Linked DNA regions of Homo sapiens. The protein of the gene in region 2 purifies or fractionates together with the protein of the main gene of each other region. This does not show direct contact. Each region holds a gene or a part of one and is shown on either strand. Other genes may lie near its edges.

Evidence for each region. Proteins that work in one complex are often made in the same cells at the same time.
Region 1: the proteins of TCEAL2 (region 2) and USP11 purify together in Homo sapiens (affinity purification with mass spectrometry; 3 studies listed by BioGRID). This does not show direct contact.

What each region holds. Positions count from the first base shown.
Region 1 is NC_000023.11:47,235,472-47,243,193, forward strand, and holds part of USP11 (ubiquitin carboxyl-terminal hydrolase 11), read left to right. Parts: intron 1-3,598; coding exon 3,599-3,708; intron 3,709-3,879; coding exon 3,880-4,010; intron 4,011-4,318; coding exon 4,319-4,436; intron 4,437-4,833; coding exon 4,834-4,979; intron 4,980-5,115; coding exon 5,116-5,177; intron 5,178-5,302; coding exon 5,303-5,405; intron 5,406-5,805; coding exon 5,806-5,979; intron 5,980-6,069; coding exon 6,070-6,228; intron 6,229-6,610; coding exon 6,611-6,835; intron 6,836-6,967; coding exon 6,968-7,051; intron 7,052-7,154; coding exon 7,155-7,249; intron 7,250-7,722.
Region 2 is NC_000023.11:102,121,327-102,128,441, forward strand, and holds TCEAL2 (transcription elongation factor A protein-like 2), read left to right. Parts: upstream 1-4,352; 5' UTR 4,353-4,480; intron 4,481-5,046; 5' UTR 5,047-5,119; intron 5,120-5,477; 5' UTR 5,478-5,504; coding exon 5,505-6,188; 3' UTR 6,189-6,386; downstream 6,387-7,115. UniProt on the Homo sapiens protein: May be involved in transcriptional regulation.

The DNA.
Region 1 (7,722 bases), about 55 Mb from region 2:
TCCTCAAAATACTCTTAACAGCTTCCCATCTCTTGCAGCGTAGATGCTAAAATCCTTACAATGAATTGCAAGCCTTTATGAAGCTGGTCTCCTGCTTGCATTCTGATGTCTTCCCATATCTCTCCTCTGATTACGCACTCCCTCCCTGTCTCCATCCAGGCCGGCCATATTGGACTCTTGCTGTTCCTCAAACACATCTAACCTTAGGGCTTTTTCGAGTGAGGTTTACTCACTACAGAGTTCTTTAATAACCACACCAGTGAAATGTGTATCTCTGTTACTGGGGAGATGAGTTGAGATTTTCCAAATCGGGAATACAAACCCAAGCCGTGTTTTTCTGCCATTACGTCACACTTTTCCAGCAAGAAAAAGCCTCATTTCATCCTGAGAATAAACAAAATAACCACAGTGTTTTGTAACTCATTTGAAGATGTTCAAAAGGGCCTTGAGGCTTTGATCCTTGCCTCTTCCTACCTTTGTAGCCTTGTGATTGTGTCACTGGTAGGACATGACATCCTGTCATCCTTGATAATACGCTTTAAAATTACCCCACCAGTACTGGGTTTTCTTTTGGGATGATGAAATATTTTGGAACTAGGGAGAGGTTGTGGTTGTACAACATTGTGAATGTTCTAAATGCCGCTGAATTGTTCACTTTAAGATGGTTAATGTTATGTTATGTGAATTTCACCTCATTAAAAAAATTACCACACCAGTGTTGGTTCAGTGTTGAAGCCGGTTTGTCTCTGCTGTCATGGGTATTATCATGAAGCATTTTTGCTAAACTCCACTTTGTTAATGCTTCTCTAGTAAGAGCAAAGCATCTCAAGGTTCTTTATTGCTGTCCATTTTCCATTTTACAGGGGTTTGCTTAAGTGGCCAGGATATATGTGTTTATAAAGCATTTTGAAGTCATGGACTAACCCCAAATCATATATCTTGTATCAGTATTAATATTTGCACCTTCTGTCTTTTGTCAGCTGGCAGATTTGGGTGAGGGTAGTTAATTAATTTGGTCATCACAACTGATTTAATTTCTGGGAGAAGCTTGTATTTTAAGGCAAATTCAAATCTGTAATAATATAGCCTCCTTGGAAATTTTCACTTTTTCCTTTTGTGGGATGAACCATCTTCAAACACAAATCAGACACAAGAGAAAACTAGAAGACAGAAAATAAAGAATTGTTTAGCAACTTTTTTCCATAAGCACATATTTCATATCATTTCAACAAATTTGAGGAAGCACGAATAAACCTAAGTGACTTTAGCAAGATCAGTTGTACCTGTATATACTGGCAGCAAGAAACTAGAAAATTAAAATTTATGATACCATTTATGATAGCATCCAAAAAATTGAATACCCAGCTGTAAATATAATAATTTGGGTGTTATTGATACAGACCATGACACCTTTGTTGTGACTGCCACCTGGCCTGACAGAGATTGTGAGACATCCTGATTTCAGAGATGTTAACAATGATTTTTTTAAAGTGTCTTTGACTTGAAGCAATATGGTAATAATTTTCTGTGAAAAATTATGTAAAATGTCAGTCCTCTATGAAATCTATAGAAGTTCAGCCTGTGACCAGGTCTGGAAGTTTTGCTTACCACTCTACAGCGTGATTTTAATGTTATTTTTTGTTCAAAATCTGCTCTTAAAAAGAAGTTGAGCAGTGCCTACCTTTGCATTGGAAGGTACTGTTAACTATAGCTTTACTGAACAAATTAACTTCATAGACTGGCTATGGAGGCAAGTAAAGCCACAAAGGGTGGATGGTGGTGTGTGGGGTGCAGGGTTGGGTCTGAGCATTGAGCCACCGGCACAGAAGGGTTTGTTTCCCTGGTGTGAGTGATATGGGGCAGGGTCTGTGGGGGTCAGTGCAGCAAAAAAACAAAACCAACAAAAAACCCACAGAAATGTTTGCCTATCTAGGTGACTTGTGACTATTCCAAGATTTGTCTGTCCCTCCATCCTCCCACCTCTCTGATCCTTTCATGAACAAGGGAAAGTTGACATTTTAAAGAATCACATTGATGAGGTTAAATTGGGAGAATCGCTTGAACCCGGCAGGCAAAGGTCGCAGTGAGCTGAGATTGTGCCACTGCACTCCAGCCTGGGCGACAGAGCAAGACTCTGTCTCAAAAAATGATAATAATAATAATGAGGTTAAATTGCTTGAAAACCAGCCAATATAATGTTATGTGCATTTCATCAAATTTGGTTATTTTTTAAAAAGCATTTATTTGAGGCTGCTCAGTATTTGGGATAGCCTTTTATGTGTCAGAAATGCCACAGCAGAACAGGTGTGTGTGTATGTGTGTGTGTGTGTGTGTGTGTGTGTGTGTGTGTGTGTGTTTAGGCAGGAGGAGGTTTATGTCTGTGAGCTTTTATGTCCAAGTCCTGAAGTCCAAGCTGTCAGAACAATGACAGCTAAAATTCATTTAGCACTTATTATATGTCAAGTATTTTCCAAACTTCAGGATTTCTCACAAAGGTAGATTTCAATATAGTTCTAAATGGTTATCCTTGTAGTACATATAAGTTTCACCTTTAAAAGAGAGCTAGTTGAACTGTATACTGAAAAATGCTTGATGGTAAGTTTTATGTTACATGTTTTTATCACAGTTTTTAAGAGAACCATAAGCTCAGGAATTTACTATAAAGCCAAAGTAAATTCTAAATTAAAAAATGATGAACAATAGCAATATGCAGTTCTTTTTTTTTTTTTTTTTTTTGAGATGGAGTCACTCTGTCGCACAGGCTGGAGTGCAGTGATGCAGTCTCGGCTCACTGCAACCTCTGCCTCCAGGGTTCAAGTGATTCTCATGCCTCTGCCTCCCAAGTAGCTGGGATTACAGGCACGTGCCAGCACACCTGGCTAATTTGTTGTATTTTTTAGTAGAGACGGTTTCACCATGTCAGCCAGGCTGGTCTTGAACTCCTGACCTCAGGTGATCCACCCGTCTTGACCTCCCAAAGTGCTGGGATTACTGGCGTGAGCCACTGTGCCCGGTCTTTTTTTTTTTTTTTTTTTTTTTTCAGTATGCAGTTTTTGAAGGAAAACCTTATGATTCTTTTTAGCATTTTAAATTCTTTGCTCCTTTTAAAAGCAGATTTTTCACCATTTATCAAATCTAGTTCTTAGCTGAAGAATTATGCTTCCATTGATAGATCCTTTAGAAACAAACACATAATGAATGGCTAAAGCCTTATAAAATTAGCTGCAGATGGCACATATCTTGAGCCTAACTTAACTGGGTTATCCCACAGACTAATTCAAATGAATCATCTTTTATTCTATAATAAAACCTCATGTTTCCTAGCACTATAAGTATGGATTTTTTGTTGGTTTGTTTGCCATTGTTAACCACATTTTCTGTTTTTAATCAGATTTCTTTTTTAATACTAAGAAGTTATCTAACATACAAATCTGAGTTTCACTGAATAAATTTTGCTTCGAATTTATTTTTATATGATGCTGAAACTTTTCATCTTAAATTATAATGTGTCAATACTTTCAGTCTGTTGGGCATGGGAAGTTGTATAGCTAACCCTCAGCTACCCATGTAACACCCTTGTTACCTGTCTGGGCCCCAGGTTCCTTGTGGAGAAGCACTGGTATAAGCAGTGGGAGGCATACGTGCAGGGAGGGGACCAGGACTCCAGCACCTTCCCTGGCTGCATCAACAATGCCACACTCTTTCAAGGTACAAGGCCTTTGCCTCCTTCTCACCCTAGCCCTGGAGTTCTTGTCCCTTCCGTCCCTACAGATGATCATAAGCCCATTCTGTGTGCTAGGTCACTGGTGGGGTGGCCAGAGTCATTCGTCAGTTTCCTTTGTTGATTCTTCCTCTGCCACCTCCACCCCCGCCCCACAGATGAGATAAACTGGCGCCTCAAGGAGGGACTGGTGGAAGGCGAGGATTATGTGCTGCTCCCAGCAGCTGCTTGGCATTACCTGGTCAGCTGGTATGGTCTAGAGCATGGCCAGCCACCCATTGAACGCAAGGTATAATGGATGGGGAGGGTGCATGGCGGGGAGTGCGTAGTAAGAAAGCCTTGTAGGCCCAGCATGGGTACAGATCCATGTATGCTGGGTAGGTACACATATGTCTGCTCTCTTCCCCCTCCTAGCTCATCATACAGGTATCTTTGTCTGCTGTGTGTGTTCCCCTGTGTGGCTCTCTTTACAGACCATTGTATATGTGTGTTTGTATGCTATGTTTGTAAGGCAGAGTGTGTGCTCCTCTCATTTGAGAGGTCACAGCGCTGTGTCTGTGTGAGTACACCTGTGTCTGCACCCCTCTACTCTTACAGGTCATAGAGCTGCCCAACATCCAGAAGGTCGAAGTGTACCCAGTAGAACTGCTGCTTGTCCGGCACAATGATTTGGGCAAATCTCACACTGTTCAGTTCAGCCATACCGATTCTATTGGTGAGTCTAAGGGTCACGCAATGGGTTGGTGTTCCTAGCTACTAGTCCCAACTCAGTGACTTGAGGTTGCATAGGGTTAAGCTGAAGCTGACTGAGAAGGCACTGGTCAGACTTTGGAAGACCCAGAAGGCATTGGCTAAGTTGGGTGGAGGCACTGAGGGGATCTACTAGAGCCCTGAGGGTATGTGAGCTACATTCTAGTGGCTTACGTGGTGTGGCAGAGGATATTTGCTGGAGATCTCCAGTCTGGAGTGTGGGCCAGTCATTTGGAGACTGATTGAGGACACAGGTATTGGCCAAGCATGTGAGGTCCGTAGGGATGAGTCAGGTATGCCCAGATGGATTGATCATTTTGGGTCTCACAAAGATCTTGAATGTACTCCATCACCCCGCACAGGCCTAGTATTGCGCACAGCTCGGGAGCGGTTTCTGGTGGAGCCCCAGGAAGACACTCGGCTTTGGGCCAAGAACTCAGAAGGCTCTTTGGATAGGTTGTATGACACACACATCACGGTTCTCGATGCGGCCCTTGAGACTGGGCAGGTAAGGGTGGGGAGGGCTTTTCTGTTCAGGTGGACTGGCAGATAGACTCACCTGGCAGTACTCGGGGGAAATGAAGGCTAGGTACCCATAATGTCCTCCATTAATACCTTTCCTTCTTTCTCTTTCTCCAACCCAGTTGATCATCATGGAGACCCGCAAGAAAGATGGCACTTGGCCCAGCGCACAGCTGCATGTCATGTGAGCCCTTGGGGTATCTGGTCCAGAGCGGGGGCGTCCCACAGTAGGCAAAATGATTTAGCCCATGAGCACATTGCACCCCCATGCAGCAGGCCCTCAGCTGACAGTTTCTCATCTAACCCCAGGAACAACAACATGTCGGAAGAGGATGAGGACTTCAAGGGTCAGCCAGGCATCTGTGGCCTCACCAATCTGGGCAACACGTGCTTCATGAACTCGGCCCTGCAGGTTGGGCCATTATAGTTGTGTCTGGCACAGCCACGTGGTTGGGCTTCAAGAGCTGAGGATTGGGGACAGAGCTGGGGTCCTGAGGGGACTACAGGGCAAGGGGTCAGGATGAAAGCTGAGGCCCCACAAGTCTGAAGTGGCACGCCCACGTTCATTCCTGAACTATCAGCCTCTTCTCTCAGCTTGCCCTCATTTTCCCTCTTCTCTTCCCTGTTCCCACGTTCTTCCTTCTCGTGAAATCCTAATGCCTTCTCTCCCCTACTCTCCTGCTCCTCTCTCTCCTCCCTTCCCCTTCTCTCTTGTTTTCCTCTCTCTTTCCTCCTGGCTTCTTTTTGTGTATCCTCACTTTGAACCTTCTGTCTCCCCTCTGCCTCATTCACCTGGTCTCTGGCCTCTGCAGTGCCTCAGCAATGTGCCACAGCTCACCGAGTACTTCCTCAACAACTGCTACCTGGAGGAGCTCAACTTCCGCAACCCACTGGGCATGAAGGGTGAGATCGCAGAGGCCTATGCAGACCTGGTGAAGCAGGCGTGGTCTGGCCACCACCGCTCCATTGTGCCACATGTGTTCAAGGTGTGACTCAACCCTGGGCACCCCCGACCCCCTACGTCTCTTGGCTCTCCTAACTCCCTCTCTCTCTGATGACCCTGCCCATCTTCTTAGAACAAGGTTGGCCATTTTGCATCCCAATTTCTGGGCTACCAGCAGCATGACTCTCAGGAGCTGCTGTCATTCCTCCTGGACGGGCTGCATGAGGACCTTAATCGGGTGAAGAAGAAGGAGTATGTGGAGCTGTGCGATGCTGCTGGGCGACCGGATCAGGTAGGCTGCCCCCGCATTTGCAGTCCAATTAACATCACCAAGGCCTCTGCCTCGGGGATTTTCTGGCCTCCCTGGGGTATCTAACACGCCACCATTTTCTGTTAAGTTTCTCTACCTGACCTCAACTCCAGCCTTACTCTTAACCTTAGTTGCAATACCATATCTGCCCCCACAGTCAACCCAGAGTAAACCCCAGCGCAGTCTCCTGCCCTAAATGACCCCCAGTCTTGACCGTGAACATAGTCTCTGTGTATCCCTAGCTGGAGCTCTGCCTCTGGACTTTAGCAGTGGCCTTCCGCTTCACCCCATTTGAATGCACCCCAAGCCATGGTTTCCTCTTACCCTGGGCAAGCCCCACCACCCACCATGACACTATCAACAGGAGGTGGCACAGGAGGCATGGCAAAACCACAAACGGCGGAACGATTCTGTGATCGTGGACACTTTCCACGGCCTCTTCAAGTCCACGCTGGTGTGCCCCGATTGTGGCAATGTATCTGTGACCTTCGACCCCTTCTGCTACCTCAGTGTTCCACTGCCTATCAGCCACAAGAGGGTCTTGGAGGTCTTCTTTATCCCCATGGATCCGCGCCGCAAGCCAGAGCAGGTGTGGGGCAGTGGGGGCCTGGGGAGATGATGATGGACACATAGAGTTTGATTAGCTGCCATAGCTCAAGGCTTCTTGCATTAACTCACCACAAGCCCTTTTGGTCTTTTGTGGATACCGTTTTTCCCTTAGCACCGGCTCGTGGTCCCCAAGAAAGGCAAGATCTCGGATCTATGTGTGGCTCTGTCCAAACACACGGGCATCTCGCCAGAGAGGGTGAGACTGCAGAAGGAGGCTGGATGGGATTCCAGGGCAAGGAGGCAGAAGGGCCTGGGAGGCCGTGCAGACTAACAGTCCCCTCTCCATATCCCATTCCTAGATGATGGTGGCTGATGTCTTCAGTCACCGCTTCTATAAGCTCTATCAGCTAGAGGAGCCTCTGAGCAGCATCTTGGACCGTGATGATATCTTCGTGTGAGTGGGGATGGCAGGGAGGTGGTGGTTCCTCAGGAACTTGGTCCACTTCCTTTTGTATGGTCCTGCCTTAACCACCTTCTCTCTTCCCTGCCTCTGCCTCGTTCACTGGGCACCTGCCCTGCGCAGAGCTTCAGCCACATGCCTTGGGAGGCTGAGGCAGGAGAATCACTTGAACCCGAGAGGTTCAAGTGAGCCAAGATCACGCCACTGCACTCCAGTCTGGGCGACAGGGCAAAACTCCATCTCAAAAATAAATAAAGCCGGGCGCGGTGGCTCACGCCTGTAATCCCAGCACTTTGGGAGGCTGAAGCAGGCAGATCACGAGGTCAGGAGATGGAGACCATCCTGGCTAACACGGTGAAACCCCGTCTCTACTAAAAATACAAAAAATTAGCCGGGCGTGGTGGCAGGTGCCTGTAGTCCCAGCTACTCGGGAGGCTGAGGCAGGAGAATGGCATGAACCCGGGAGG
Region 2 (7,115 bases):
AGCAATTTGGCAAGTTCTCAAATAACTTGAAACAGAATTACCATTCAATTCAGCAGTCCCATTACTGAGTACATACCCAAAGGAATATAAATTATTCTACCATAAAGATACATGCAGGTGTACATTCATTGCAGCATTATTCACAATAGCAAATATATGGAACCAACCTAAATGCCTATCAATAGTAGACTGGATAAAGAAAATGTAGTATATATACACCATGGAATACTATATAGCCATAAAAAAGAATGAGATCGTGTCCTTTGCAGCAACATGGATGAAGCTGGAGGTCATTATCCTAAGTGAACTCACACAGGAACAGAAAACAAAATATCACATGTTCTCACATACGTGCATGCTAAACATTGAGTATATATAGATGCAAATAAGGGAACAACAGACACCAGGGCCTACTTGAAGGTGGATGGTGACGACTAAAAAATTACCTATCAGCTACTATGCTTATTACCTGGGTGATGAAATAATCTGCACACCACAACATGCAAATTACATGCAGCATGCAAATTACCCTTAAAACACACTTGTACATATACCTCTGAACCTAAAATAAAAGTAATTAAAAAAAGAACAATCACTGGACCAGTTCCACTGAATTTGTAAAATAAAACCGTCACTTCATTTCACTTTATTTCATATACTTCATCATTCATTTTGTATATTTTATGTTAAATTCTCAAGAAAAATATGTGCAATTGACCCCGAAAGAAGAGGCTTTTCAGAAGAGCATTGCAAGAAGAGGTTTTTCAGAAGAGCATTGCAAAAGAACATTGAGAGCCAGTTACATCATAGGGCTTGGATAGGTCATTTCTCCTGTGCTAACCATTTTTTTTAATAACACCTTTCATATCTATGTGGAGGTTATTGAGATTCCATCTGGGAAAAAATATGTGATAAAATTGCATATAACTAACATGCACACTCTCACACAAATAGATGTGTGTTAAACGGTGAAATATGAAAAAGGTTGTTAGAGTATATCAATATTAATTTTCTGTAGTGATACTCTACTGTAGCTACAAAAGATGTTGCCATTGGAGGAAAACAGGTAAAAGAATAAGAGAGATCTCTATTATTCCTTATAATTACAAATAAATCTACAATTATGTAAAAAAGTTTTTAAAAATGCATTGCATTCTTGTCCAGGGAGCTAAGAAAACTCACCCAATTGTACTCTTGCTATGTTCCAGTCACTGTGCCAGTGACTTTACATAAATTACCTCTAGGATAAAAGTATCTCCTGGCTTTCCCTGAACAGTCCTAATTATTTTTACCTGTTGACCTAGGATCCCATCTAGCTTAACGTTTTCCAAAATTTGTCATTTTTAAAAATGTACTCTTATTACTGATATTTATGTTAAAATAAGCCAGAATGGGTTTAGGAAACCTTTAGTTCTTAGGGCTGCTGTGACAAATAACAATTTTGTTAGCTTAAGATGATACACATTAATTCTCTTACAGTTGTGGAAGTCCAAAGTCCAAAATTAGTTTTACTAGGCTGAAGTAAAGATATTGGCAGAGCTTTGCTTCCTCTGGAGGTCCAAAAGAGACTCTATTTTCTTACATTTTCCATCGTCTGGAGTTTGCATTCCTTGCCTTTCTTGGCTCATGGCCTTTTCCTTCATCTTCTAAGTCTGTAGTGTAGAATCTTGTTTCAGTTTTCACATTGCCTTCTTCTTCCGTAGTAAAATCTCTCTCTGTTTCCCTTTTATAAGAATACTTGTTATTACATTTAGGGTCTTCCTGGATAATCCTTGGTAATCTTCCTATCTCAAGATCCTTAATGACATTTGCAAAGTCCCCTTTTGCCATATAAGGTAAAATTCACAGGTTCCAGGCATTAAGACCTGGATATCTTTGAAGGCAATTATTAAGCCTACCACAGATCTCCACTTTTTACTTCCATTTTTGCATTGTTTTTGTCTGGTAGTGTGTGAGACATCCTTGTCTTGTTCTGGTTCTCAAGGGGAATGCTTCCAGCTTCTGCCCATTCAGTATAATGTTGGCTGTGGATTTGTTATACATGGCTCTTGTTATTTTGAGGTACATTCCTTCAACACCTAGTTTATGGAGAGTTTTTAACATGAAGGGATGTTGAATTTTATCCATAGCCTTTTCTGCATCTACTGAGATGATCATGTGGCTTTTGTCTTTAGTTCTGTTTATGTGATGAATCACATTTATTGATTTGTGTATATTGAGCTAAACTTGCATCCTGGAGATGGATCCTACTTGATCATGGTGGATACATTTTTTGACATGCTACTGTATTCAGTTTGCCACTATTTTGTTGAGGATTTTTGCATCCATGTTAATTAAGGATATTGGCCTGAAGTTTCCTTTTTGTGTGTGTGTCTCTGCCAGGTGTTGGTATCACTTAGTGATTTTATAGTGTTAATATATGTCTATATTTATTTTACTGATGGGAATGATACTTTTATTCTGCAATAAGAAACAAAAGGTCTCTAGTGAATGGTATGTTCAGTAATGTTACTTTTCTAAGAAAGTGGATGACAAACATTTAACTTAAAATATGTTTAATCAACATATACTATGCATCAAGAGAACTGTCATTATATCTTCTTCCAAAGGTAGTAATTACTTGAGGAACAATGTGTCAATTTATTACATGCAAATGCAAAAGTTGTGTTGACTTCTCATTTTGTGAACAGATCTTTTAATTTAGATAAAATGACATTTCTTCAAATTTAATGATACTAATTTTGAATCCCACATTTTTGTGTATATGTTTTAAAAGAGGAGAAATAGTTGTTAATACTTTGGCTCCATTAGCAAAATAACTTAGCAAATAGTTACTGAAGACAGCTTAAAATCACTATAATTAGATGATTAAAACAGAAAATCAGTTCTTTTCAACTGATTTGATATTATTTTCATCAAATTCTTGAATAATTATAATAATTTTATGGAAGTTTATACTGATGAAATTGAAACACCTAGCCTCGATAATTCAGGAAAAAAATTCAACATTGAGGACAGAATTATTGGTGATGTGGTGATAATGACGAATACACATATTGATAGAGCAAAATACTGTAGGAAGATCAAGGTTTTACTAAATGAAGAAAGATGTGTAGCAGAAATATAATCAGAATTGCTTGTGTAACACACATAATTCATAATCCTGTAATCATGATAAGGTATTTTGCAAATCAAAATAAAAATAGTTGTTGCCCAGATATACACAAGACATACACATACATATGTACACACATATACATCTATACATATATGTGTGTATAAATAAACATGTGTATATATACATATACATGTCACTATACTGTAGAAGCTAAAATATTGGTGATTCTTAGTTTTTGTGGGTGGTGGCTTCACGAATGTGAAAGAAAAGGAAAGAAAAAAAAGACAAAGGATGGGAAGGGGAGGAAATAATAGGACGGGAAAGAAAAGGGAAGGAAGAGGGACAAGCAGGGATCGATGATAAGGGTGTGTTGTAAACCAAGGACTATGATGAATTTGTGCATCTGAAATTCATATTTAAAATGTTTTAATGCTTTCTTTTCTACCTGTCTGACATTCTCTCTCTATGAAAACTGATCAAATGTTGGAAGGTAAGTTTCAAGTGTGGAGAGAGACCAAGGGAGATGGCAAGAAGGAAGTTGGTAAATCAATTTGGGGTACACGGGCTTTGGGGTCCCTCAGGGACACTCAGGCGGTGATGTCCAATAGACAGTTGGCAAAGCTGATATGAGACACGGAGAAGGGAACAGCCTGGAGCTGTAGATCTGGGAGTCATCGGTGTTTACTGGAAATGAATGAGATCACACAGGGAGAGACAACTTGAGGACTGAGGAGAGAGGAGGCCCAGGACAGAACCCCAGGAACACCGCCACTCAAGGTGGCAGCTCAGCTTCCTGGCAGGCACCACTACCCCCCGGGCTCTGGAGTCAGGCAGAGCCGGTATTGAAAGTGGGCTGTGGAGTTCTGGGGCTGAGCGCTCTTGGCAAAGTCCGGTACCTCTATGATCAGCTGTCACACCTGGCGATAATGGGCATCAGAGAGATATGCCTTGCGAGGATGCTGTGAGCTGCGTCAGGTAAAGCACCTAGGGTCAGAAAGCCACCTCTCCTCCTCTTCTCCGCGACCCCACTTTGCTACACAAACGCACCGAGACTCCGACCGTCCCCAGCCTCCGGTCCCTCAGGGATGGAAGGTGAGGTATGTCAGGAAAGAGAGGGGGGCCCAGCTCCAAGGTGAGGTGTGTCAGGCAAGAGCGGGGGCAGAGCTCCGGTGACGCGGTGCTCACGTGACCCGCCCGGCGCCTACGTGGGCACCAGCCCCCGCGCCCGCCCGCCAGCCCGCCCAGCGGTCGGGTCCGGGCGCCCGCGCAGAATCAGCTGTCTGAGCTGCCCAGGCGGCGGGGGAGCAGCGAGCGGGCTTCAGCGAGCCGCAGGAGGCACAGGCCTGTCCTGGGTCCCCGCAGGTCAGTGTGAAGGCGTGCGCTGCCGGCGGACCCTGGGACAGGGGTGGAGGGGGCTGGCAGTAGGATTGGGGAGGGGGCGGAGAAGGGATCCGGTAGATTGGGGAGGAGGGGGATGCGGAGTCGCGGGGGCGGGGGCAGTGGAGGGAGAACCCCCGAAGCAAGCCTGGCTCGCCTTCTCGACGCCCCCTTGCACTGAGTCCTCCATCCATTTTAGTGCTGGAAATGGGGGGTGGGGGTAGCGACCCCGCAGTGCGACAGTGAAACGTAGACATATTCTGGAAATAACCCCTTCTCACAATCTACACCCATGGAAACACTTGATCTCCGCAAAAATGAGGTGGCGCTGGGGCAGGTTGCCTCCGGGGAAGGGGGACACAGAGACAAACGCAGTTTGGAAAGCATCCTGGTTTGGTGCCCGAGGCCTGGAAAGAAATGGCGGCTGGGGTGCGGGGGAGGTAGGGGAGGAAAACGGTGGGTAAGCAGGGCCTGGACTCAGGAAAGGGAACCGAGTCCCTGTGAGCCCGCTAAGCGCGCAGCCCCTGCCCCTGTCTCCTGTCTGTCCGCAGGTCTGCGCGTCTGTTGTTCCCAGCGCTCTGAGAGGCCTGAAAAGGAAGAGCAACCTGTCCAGAATCCCCGCAGGTCCGTGAAAGCAGGGGGCTGCATGGACAGGGGCCCACAAGGGTTGAGAGTGTGGAGGGCACAGTCAGGGCCGAATTGGGGCCCCTGCCCATCCCCTTACCTACATGAACACACACCTTACCAGGCTGAACCAGTGCAGAGAAGGTGGCAGGGCCTGCCAGGGAACAGCTGGCTCACGTGTGTGGGAGGAGTGGTGGGCTACGTGGTGGGCAGAAGGCCCTCTTGGAGGCCCAGTCAGCTTAGGGGAACCCTCACCAGGGGTGAGATGCAAGTAGTATCCAGACCTGCATTCCACCCCATGCCCTCAGTCTCCCATGTCTCCTCTTTGTCTCCTCTTCCCTCCACACCCATCCCCCAGGAAAGGAAAAGGAGGGGAAATCTCGACATGGAAAAACTCTTCAATGAAAATGAAGGAATGCCTTCGAATCAAGGAAAGATAGACAATGAAGAACAGCCACCGCACGAGGGAAAGCCAGAAGTAGCTTGTATTCTGGAAGACAAGAAGTTAGAAAACGAGGGAAACACAGAAAACACGGGCAAGAGAGTTGAGGAACCGTTAAAGGATAAAGAAAAGCCAGAGAGTGCGGGAAAGGCAAAAGGAGAAGGAAAGTCAGAGAGGAAGGGAAAGTCAGAGATGCAGGGAGGATCAAAGACAGAGGGAAAGCCAGAGAGAGGGGGAAGGGCAGAGGGTGAAGGAGAGCCAGACAGTGAAAGAGAGCCAGAGAGTGAGGGAGAGCCAGAAAGTGAAACAAGGGCTGCAGGAAAGCGCCCAGCTGAGGATGATATACCCAGGAAAGCCAAAAGAAAAACCAACAAGGGGCTGGCTCAGTACCTCAAGCAATATAAGGAAGCCATACATGATATGAATTTCAGCAATGAGGACATGATAAGAGAATTTGACAACATGGCTAGGGTGGAGGATAAAAGGAGAAAAAGCAAACAGAAATTGGGGGCGTTTTTGTGGATGCAAAGAAATTTACAGGACCCCTTCTATCCTAGGGGTCCAAGGGAATTCAGGGGTGGCTGCAGGGCCCCACGAAGGGACACTGAAGACATTCCTTATGTGTAGTGTCCCTGGCAGGCATTTGTCAGGCCATATGTTTTAACCTTATGGTAATACTTTGCTTTAGTCGTTCCTCCTGCTACCAGTAGCGTTTTGACCCACCTGCCAGTGTTTGCTTGCTCTATGTTTCAGTAGCAGATTTTCACACATGTGCATTGCAGAGACGTCATGATTCGTGGAAAAATAAAGCAGCTTATAATATCATCTACAGAATCTGTCTGTTTTTGTTAAATACATGAAAGGTTAACAGTGGTTTTCTGAGTTGTGAGCTAGCAGGTGATTTCATTTCTTTGTTTTCTTTCTACTAATCTTTCTTTTCCCAGAGAACACAAATTACTTTTCTCACAAAAATAATAAAATATTTTTAAAAAATCAGAACAGTATGTAAAAAGCAAAGAGAATAACTGTCCAGTGAACTTATGAAGTTCAGTAGAGACACTTAACGTTCTTGTTGTCAGAACTTAAAATGATAGGTAAAATTCACATTACCTACCTGTGGGACTCATCTGGAGAAGTCAATCTGGGGTTATTACAGATCCATTGCTCTAACGGACAGTCTTTTCATTTGTCAAATAGAGATAATACCTTGCTTTTCAGAACTGCTGAGTGGGTTGGATAAGGTAGAGAATATATTTGTTGGGTTGGCATCTACCTTCTCCCCTGCTCTAGCAGAAAAAAATACCCCCTCAGACACTTGGAAGAGGACTAGGGTAAATCTTACCTGTGTCCAGGAATAAGTCTAGGAAACTGAAAGGTGGGTGCCATCCTCTTTTAGACAATGTCATGTCCACTGGGCACTGTGCTCCTTCTCATAAATCTTGCACCCTCCTAAAGCTCACATTGATGCCGATGGGCTGAAGTTCTCAAGGTAACAAGGTCCAGTTGATTTCCAGTGAGCCAAGCCTACTGACCCCATTCCACAACAACTATGAA